Linked DNA regions of Homo sapiens: region 1 is linked to region 2. The links come from fine-mapping of genetic effects on gene expression. A gene starts in region 2. The other region holds a variant in brackets. All regions are shown on one strand. Distances are between the middles of the regions. Region 1 has its middle 11 kb from the start of SLC17A8. Region 2 holds the start of SCYL2 (SCY1 like pseudokinase 2).

Region 1 (4,392 bases), 79 kb after region 2:
AATTGATTTTTTTTTTCCTTTGAGACCAGTCTCCTTCTGTCGCCCAGGCTGAAGTGCAGTGCTGTGATCTCAGTTCACTGCAGCGATCTCGGCTCACTGCAGCCTCTACCTCCCAGGTTGAAGAGATTCTTCTGCCTCAGCCTCCTAACTAACTGGGACTACAGGCATCCGCCACCACTCCCAGCTAATTTTGGTAATTTTAGTGGAGACAGGGTTTCACCATGTTGGCCAGGCTGGTCTCGAAGTCATGACCTCAAATGCTCCGCCCACGTCAGTCTCCCAAAGTGCTGAGATTACAGGCATGAGCCACTGCTCCAGGCCCTGAAATTGATTTTATTATATTTTAATATTGCCAGGTATGGTGGCTCATGCCTGTAATCCCAGCACTTTGGGAGGCCAAGGTGGGTGGATAGCTTGAATCCAGGAGTTCAAGACCAGCTTGGGCAACACGGTAAAACCCCGTCTCTACAAAAAATACACAAAATTAGCTGAGTATGGTGGCATATGCCTGTAGTTCCAGCTACTTGGGAGGTTGAGGTGGGAAGATCACTTGAGCCCAGAGGTTGCAGTGAGCCGATAACGCACCACTGCATTCCAGCCTGGGTGACAGAGTGAGACCCTATCTAAGAAAAAAAAAATTAAAATATTTCTGCATGGAATTGATATAAAAAACTCACATTTTACATCTTTTTGGGTACTTAGTCTTTGAGATGCAGTGTGTATTTTACACTTAGCACATTTAACTTCAGACTAGTCATATTTCGGGTACTTAGGAGCCACGTGGCTAGTAGCTGCTGCATTAGATAATGTGGATATAGTCTGGGCTCAGTGGCTCATGCCTATAATCCCAGCACTTTGGGAGGCTGAGGCGGGTGGATCACCTGAGGTCGGGAGTTTGAATCAATGTTGACCAGGTTGGCCTCGAACGTGTAGCCTCGCCTCCCCGAGTGCCACGGCAACCGGCCTGAGCCACAGCGGCTCCCGAAGTCGGGAGTTTGAGACTAGCCTGGCCAACATGGTGAAATTCTGTCTCTACTAAAAATACCAAAAATTAGCCAGGTGTGGGGCGCCTGTAATCCCAGCTACTTGGGAGGCTGAGGCCGGAGAATCGTTTGAACCCAGGAGGCGGAGGTTGCAGTGAGCCGAGATTGTGCCACTGCACTCCAGCCTGAGTGACAGTGAGACTCCATCTAAAAAATAAATAAGACAATGTGGATGTATATGGAAGCTCGGTGACTAAAGGAGTGAATGATGGCATTTATCAACTTATGGTTTCAGTTCCAAACCCATCCTTTGCCTTGCCTTGTACTGTTTTTTTCCTTTGCCAGCTGGAAAAATGAGGGCCCCAGAGTGGCACTGCAAAGCAAGAGCTGCAAGAAGATACTTTACTTATGGTTGTGGGTCTCCCATTATTATCCACCATAGAAGCCCAGCAGTCCAAACAGAGGAGCTCCAGCTGCACCTCAGGTTACCTTCTCCCAACCCTGAGCCACTGTGGAGCAGCTCCCATGGGCTGCTTCCATGCCAGCTCTGCCACTCCATCAAGCAACTGTCTTCCATTCTGTGGCCCATTCCCTCGGACAAGTTTCTTCACCATGGCAGGCTGAATGTTCCTGTAGAAACCACACCCTCTCCAGAGAAGTCTGATCTCAGCTTGGGAGTGGAGTAGGGGAAGAGAGCCTCTCCTGGTCTTTAGTTCATTTTTTTTTTTTTTTCACTTTTCTTCAGCCTAGAGGCAGTATTTGCCTTTTACCTGCTACTTCTGTGCCCCTTAGAGTCCTCTTTTGCCCCTACAAATAATTTACCAGCTTCTACTAGTTAGCAAATATTATATTAAAACTTCCCTGTTCAAGTATCTGGTGTGGGGTTTCTGTCTCCTTACTTACCCTCACTGATAGAGCCTGAATCCAATAATAAGTCATTTTAAAATGGGGCCATAAATATATACTGCTATCAAAAGCCATTGGAATTGTGTTTACCTATCCTATATTAAAACTTTATGGAAGTTCTTTTGAAAGTTCCCACAGTAGAAATACAGTTTGGCTACTTTAATTATACCTACTGGATGCAGTTCCAATTTTTGTCTTTTTTCCTCCTGTGTTTTGGATATGTTCCTTTGTGTGGTGACCTTGGTTGCTAGTAAAGGCAGTGTTTGACTTTTATATAAAGGTAAATGAGATAGAGACGTTAATGTCTGTAGTTTGATTGTAGGAATAAACATAGATTTGCCCCAAGTCTATG[C/T]CCCTCAGCCTACCAGTCTTTTTGAACATAATGATCAGTCAAAACTCAAATGTGAGGCATATCCATGGTCACACTAGAAGCATATGGTGTATGAAGTTTGGAGCCAGAAAAAGGTGCTTTTATTAAAAAAATTTCAGGCTAAAATTGTAGTACTCACACTTTATAGACGTGGGGCAGGGTACTTTACACATTTGCGTGTTGTAACAGATCCAATTTTTTTTTTTTTTTTTTTTTTTTTTGTCTAAGACAGGGTCTGGCTCTGTCACCCAGGCTGAAGTGCAGTGGCATGATCTTGGCTCACTGCAACCTCCACCTTCCAGGCTCAAGCAATCCTCCCACCCCAAGCCTCCTGAGTAGCTGGGGCTACAGGCATGCACCACCACACCCAGCTAATTTCTGTATTTTTTAAAATTTAATTTAATTTTTTTTTTTTTGGTAAAGACAAGGTTTCACCATGTTGCCCAGGCTGGTCTCGAGCTCCTGAGCTCAAGCGATCCACCCACTTTGACCTCCCAAAGTGCTGGGATTACAAGAGTGAGCCGCTGTGCCCGGCCCCAAAATTGTTTTTAAGAAAATCTTGTCTCTAACATTTGGCACTCTTAAGATTGTATCTGTAAAGAGATGGAAAGGCTTTTCACTGAGGTGGGTGTCCTCATTAGACTGCTCACATTTTATAAGAGGTTGTCACGTCTGTCTCCAGCTACAGTGGTTATGTGAATCTGCCCTCAATCAGCAATGGTACCTGTACTCCAGCCACTTGTCAGAGAGCAACATTTAACTCTCTATTGCCCAATGGGCAAAATCTCGTTTTTGAGAGATGTTTATTGAGGAGGCCAAAAATTGAGTAATCCATTCATTTTCTCTAGAAATTCTGAATTAAGCCCACTCTTGAGACCTTTGTGCCTGGGTTGCCTTGTTTTCTCCATGCATCAGGTTTCTTTTATCACTGGTAGCTTTTGACTATGCTGTGAACTTGTATTTACGCCAGGGATGACATTGGTTCACTCCCACATAAATAGCTTCTTTGAGGACCCACTGGAGAGGTTTCAGGTTTCAGTTCAGGAGTCAATGTGCTTCTAAGCAAGTGGTTTGCCCTTCCTTTTTTTTTTTTTTTTTGAGAATGAATCTCACTCTGTTGTCCAGGCTGGAGTGCAGTGGCATGATCTCGGCTCATTGCAACCACCACCTCCTGGGACCAAGCGATTCTTGTACCTCAGCCTCCCAAGTAACTGGGTTTACAGGCACCAGCCACCACGCCTGGCTGATTTTTTTTTTTTTTTTTTTTTTGTATTTTTAGTAGAGACAGGGTTTTGCCATGTTGGCCAGGCTGGCCTCGAACTCCTGACCTCAGGTGATCCACCCGCCTTGGCCTCCCAAAGTGCTGGGTGGCGTGAGCCACCGCGCCTGGCCTGCTTCTACCTTTTAAAGTCCGCATAAAGTAACAGATTAGGTAATACAGCTAAGAGATTCAGCCAAATGTGCTGTTTACCTGTAGCAAATGTATAGGATAATAATAGTATGCAATATTCAATGCGTACCTTCTGGCTTTATCTGATTTTTAAAAAATCCTTATTTCTCATTTGCTCTGATTTCCTTTTAAAATAAGTTTTTTATCTATGTTCATAGAAATCCTCTTTTGGAATCAGGTAGAGTATAAACAGTTACACGGACTGAATGAGTGTAAATCTTGTCTCTTTCACTTAACTGACCAGAATAAGTTTTCTCAGCTACGAAATAAGATCACACCTTACAGGCCTATTAGGATTAGTGTGCAAAGTGTGCAAAGCACCTAGCACAGCTCCTGGCACATAGTAGGTGCTCAATAGATTTTTCCACTCACTTTGTGATGATATAGATCTCTAAAATAAACTCTGCTTTAATGAAAAACAAATACTTCACCTGGCTGGGCGATGTGGCTTATGCCTGTAATCCCAGCACTTTGGGAGGCCGAGGTGGATGGATCACTAAAGGTCAGGAGATTGATACCAGCCTGGCCAACATGGTGAAACCCCATCTCTACTAAAAATACAAACATTAGCTGGGCGTGTTGGTGCACGTCTCTAACCCCAGCTACTTGGGAGGCTGAGGCATGAGAATCGCTTGAACCCGAGAGGCGGAGGTTGCAGTGAGCTGAAATCGCACCACTGCACT
Region 2 (4,392 bases):
TGAAAGAGGGTCACATACCCACTTGAGCTGAATACTTGAATATAACCCAATTATCTAAATTATGAAGTGAAACTACCAAACATTGTAGAGATATTGGGCTCTAGAAAGTGCTTCCACTGTTGCTCCCGATTAAGGGGTTTAGATAAAGATGTGCCTTATTTTACATGGACATATTGCATAATGAAAAAAAATTGCCTTATCACATGCTGAACTTACTCTCCAAATAACAGAAATCCCACTTCTCTGGGCAAAAAGAAAAAAAAATTGCTGAGAAATAATGAAAACCTAAAAACAATCAAAATGTCTATTACTGGCCAGGTTCAGTGGCTCATGCCTGTAATCCCAGCACTTTGGGAGGCTGAAGCAGAAGGATCGCATGAACTCAGGATTTCAAGACTAGCTTGGGCAACACAGGGAGACTCTATAAAAAATACAAAAAATTAGTGGGGCATGGTGGCGTGCTCCTATAGTCCCAGCTGCTCAGGAGGCTGAGGTGGGAGGATCACTTGAGCCAGGGAGGCCGAGGCTGCAGTGAGCTGTGACCCTGCCACTGCACTCCAGTCAGGGCAACAGAGTGAGACCCTGTCTCAATTAGAAACAAAAACAGTTGGCCAGGCGCAGTGGCTTAAGCCTGTAATCCCAGCACTTTGGGAGGCTGAGGCAGGTGGAGGTCAGGAGTTCAAGACCACACTGGCCAACATAGTGAAACCCCATCTCTACCAAAAATACAACACAAAAAAATTTAGCTGGGCATGGTGTCGCACGCCTGTAATCCCAGCTACTTGGGAAGCTGAGGCAGGAGAATTGCTAGAACCAGGAGGTGGAGGTTGCGGTGAGCCGAGATCACGCCATTGCACTCCAGCCTGGGCAAGGGAAAAAAAACAGTCTATTACCTGAAAAAAACAGTTAAATAAATTATGGTATACCCTTACTATAGAATAGTAGCCAGCCATTAGAAAGAATGAAGTAGAGCTATGTTTATAGTGTGCAAGGATCTCATTAAGTAGGGAAAAAGAAAAACCCAAAACAAAAATTTTTTAAAAATGAGCTGAGCAGAACAACTTGTATATTATTATCCTACTTAGGTAAAAATGAATTCCCAACCTATGTAAAAATGTATGTAAATAAATAGAAAGATCTGGAAGAATAAACTTCAAACGAGTAACCTTGGGGAAGAAGGATTGTAATGGTGGCTGATGAAAGAGGATGTACCCTTTTAAAGTGTACAATTCAGTGTTTCTAGTACATTCACAAAGTTGTGCAGCCATCACTATTATCTAATTTCAGACCATTGCATCATTCCACAAAGAAACCTATAGTTCGCAGTCATTCTTCATTCTTCCGTACCCCAGTAAAATTTTAATTAAAATTAAATTTAATTAAAATTAATTAAAAAAATTAAAGAATGATAAGGGAATAACTTAGAACTTCTAGAATGTTTTTTCTAGATTTGCAGGGGGAAGTGGGTAGAATCCAAGAACTTAAGCTCTCTTCTCCAACTATGCATAACCGCAAAAGTATGCCCAACTATACATATGTTTACGATAAAATGACAGAAATAAAAATCCACCACCCTCAAATTCCTTCTGTAACAGAAGTTACCCGTCTAATCACTCAAGAAATCTTATCCCCAGACATTGTGGGCAGAGCGGAGACTGAGGAGGGGAGGCCAGAAAGTGATGGGCGGAGGTGGGCAGGAGGGTACTCGACGGGGTAGGTGGAAAATACAGCGGTACAGCCTGTTTTCCATAGACAGTCTACCTCTCTAACCTTCATTAAACAAGTAGGCTAGATTAAAGAAATAACTCCTCTAGCTCAAGGAATTTGCCCTCTAGTACATTAACCCCTTGTTGCTGTAAGTGTAGCCTAGGGACCAGCAGCATTGGTGCCATCTGGACATGTATTAGAAACGCAGATTATCAGACCCTACTCCTCAATCAGAATTTGCACTTTCACAAGATCCTAGGGATTCGTATGTATATTAAAGTTTGAGAAAAAACGCTTTCCTGCACGCTCCAAGGGCACTTCACCACAGTAACCCCTAAAAAGCCTCAGTCCTGGGTCCCCCAGTCCAGTGCCTGGTAGGGCAGGAAGGGGGCGGGGCTAGGAAATGGGCGGGGCCCTGGACCAATGAGGAGCAGAGTCCCAGCCGCCTGCTCCCTTCAGCTGCCCCCTCCACCTTCACTGCACATTTGGCTAGGATATACAGGGCTACCTGTCCTCCTTTTCCGGCAGAAGCCATCTCTACGGTTCCTGGAACTTGGCCCGTTCAGCCCTGGGCCCGGAAGCTCGTTCTGACTGACAAGTCTACGGAACCTCGGAGTCAAAAGAACCGCCATAAGCTCGCGCGCTGGCTCCTCCCCTGGCACCATAGCCCCGCCCCACCTGACACCCGGGGCGGAGAGAAGTACTGGCTCCGCCTCTTCCGAACCGGCAGGAAGTGACGTCATGCCCCCGGCCGGCAGGTCTTTTAGTCTTTTTCCCCCTCCCTTACTCTTCGTCCCCGGTCCCTCCCCTCCCCACCCCTTTCCTTCTAGCTCCGACGTTTGCGGCCGCGGGGGCGGCGGAGGATATGGAGTAAAGCCAGAGTCAGTGGCCAGGCACGAAGGCAGAGCAGGAACAGCCAGGAGGCGTTTATTAGGGGGGCGGGGGGAAAGAGCCCCAGCACCGCCCCTCCTGGAAGAAGGAAGAGGTAAGTGACCGGCCGCCGGCACCGACCGACCTCCCTCACCGGCGGCTCTCTCGCCTGGGCTCCCGGAGCCGGCGAGGAGGGAATGGAGGACTCGCGCCCGGGTTAGGCCTCCCAGGGCCGCTCAGGCTGGTGGGTGTTGCCTGGTGACGGGCCTGCCGGCGGCCGGCCGGGCGATCGGCGGTCGGCGCCCGCGCAAAGCGGGGCTGGACGAGCAGCGAGCTCCGGGGAGCGGATCCGAGAGGGCCGAGTCCTCGAAAGAGGCCTTGAGGCGACGGGAGACCCGGGATCGAAGTCAGCTGCCGGAGGGAGAGCCCCCCATGCCGGCTCGAGAGCTCGGGTTTCGGTGGTGGAGAACGTAGTACCTTTCGGGGACATTGGACACTACTCTAGGACCGGGTGAGAGAGTTCACCTCAGTTCTGAGGTCCGGAATCCGGTAGCCTGGGTCACCAGCCAGGGCCCTGCCGCCCGCCGTCCTTCTCTGACAGTAGCTTTAGTTCTGGAATGGAAGGTTATTGTGTGTGAGGTGGGTGGGGCAGGGGTTTTGTTAAGAGAAAAAACCCCACGGTTACTCCTGCAGTCTTGTTTTTCTAAACGGGAGAATACGGATGGAGGAGGGTTTAGACCGATAAAGCTTGCAAAAACTTATTGGACTTTGAGCACATACCTGTGATCCGTAATTAAGGAGGCCATATTATCAAATCCACCCTCTAAGGCACTCGAGGAGGCTCCAGACAAGCTGCTTAAAAGCGCTATGCCTGTAGTGACTTCATTGGAAGGTGTCAACTATTTTTTAGTACGTCAAACTCAGGAATTATTTGTGATGACACTTTCTAAAAACATTGGATACTATGAGTGAGTTTTCTAAGTAGCCTATCTCCGTTCTGAAAAATAAATAGTTTAGCAAAAATGCTCCAAATCAGCCTGCCACTGTAAAACCCCATTATGTTCTGGTGATGGCTTGAAAGTCAGGTGCTTGAAGATTCCTTTTGGACTTTGCAGGTTTGTTGTTGTTTGGTTTGCTGTCTTATTCTTTAGCACAAATATTTTTAAAATATTTAAAAATGAAATCAGCTGAGTATATAAATTACTTCTTGAGGCAACATTAAACTGTAATCATAAAGAATGCTTTTGGGGGATTGTGTAAAGGAAGGGAACCTAATGGAAGGTAAGGGCCTTCATTCTCTTTAGATTTACATTACTCACATGCAGAAACCTATTTTGTCTCTAAGATTCATAAATACCCAGTAAAATAAATACAGGCACATTGTACTTCTATACTGTGGAATACTTTCTAGACAGATCAACCCTGTTACTGGGAATAACTACTCATATTCACATGTTTGAAATTCATGATATACCTCCCTTCCCCCACCCCAAGAAGAAAAATAGCTCCTCTTACTGTGTTTAACTCCGTGGGTAGCATCACTATCCATTCCTTTGTATAGAAGTTGAAGTTTGACAATTCCTCTGTCGTGCTTCATACTCAGCCTCTCATGAAGTCCTGTTGATTTTGCCTCTTGAATATCTCTTGACTCTTGTCTGCTCTTCGTCTGTAACAGTAGTCCTGTTCCAAGCCACCACCATCTCTCATCCTGACTACTTCCGTAGCCTCCTGATTATGGTCTGCTTGCATCTACTGTGGTCTCCTGTAGTTTTCCAAACAAGACTTAGTGACTTTTTCAAAATGCAGACCTAATAA

What was found. PIP is the estimated chance that this variant, and not a neighbour inherited with it, causes the effect. A credible set is the group of variants that fine-mapping cannot tell apart.
Region 1: its variant is the best candidate, but not a certain one, in a credible set for the expression of SCYL2 in whole blood (INTERVAL, PIP 0.56).

What each region holds. Positions count from the first base shown.
Region 1 is chr12:100,343,595-100,347,986 of GRCh38, forward strand. No RefSeq gene overlaps it. Among named protein-coding and RNA genes, the nearest start is that of SLC17A8, 11 kb to the right of the region's middle. The variant C/T (reference allele first, on the strand shown) is at 2,242.
Region 2 is chr12:100,264,705-100,269,096 of GRCh38, forward strand. SCYL2 (SCY1 like pseudokinase 2) reads left to right here and starts at 2,473. Exons shown (of 18, transcript NM_017988.6): 1 at 2,473-3,088. It overlaps DEPDC4 (DEP domain containing 4), which reads right to left and starts at 2,375. Exons shown (of 10, transcript NM_001364818.2): 1 at 2,216-2,375. The coding sequence starts at 2,372. RefSeq lists enhancers at 2,218-2,297, 2,968-3,037, 3,048-3,107 and silencers at 2,668-2,717, 2,818-2,897.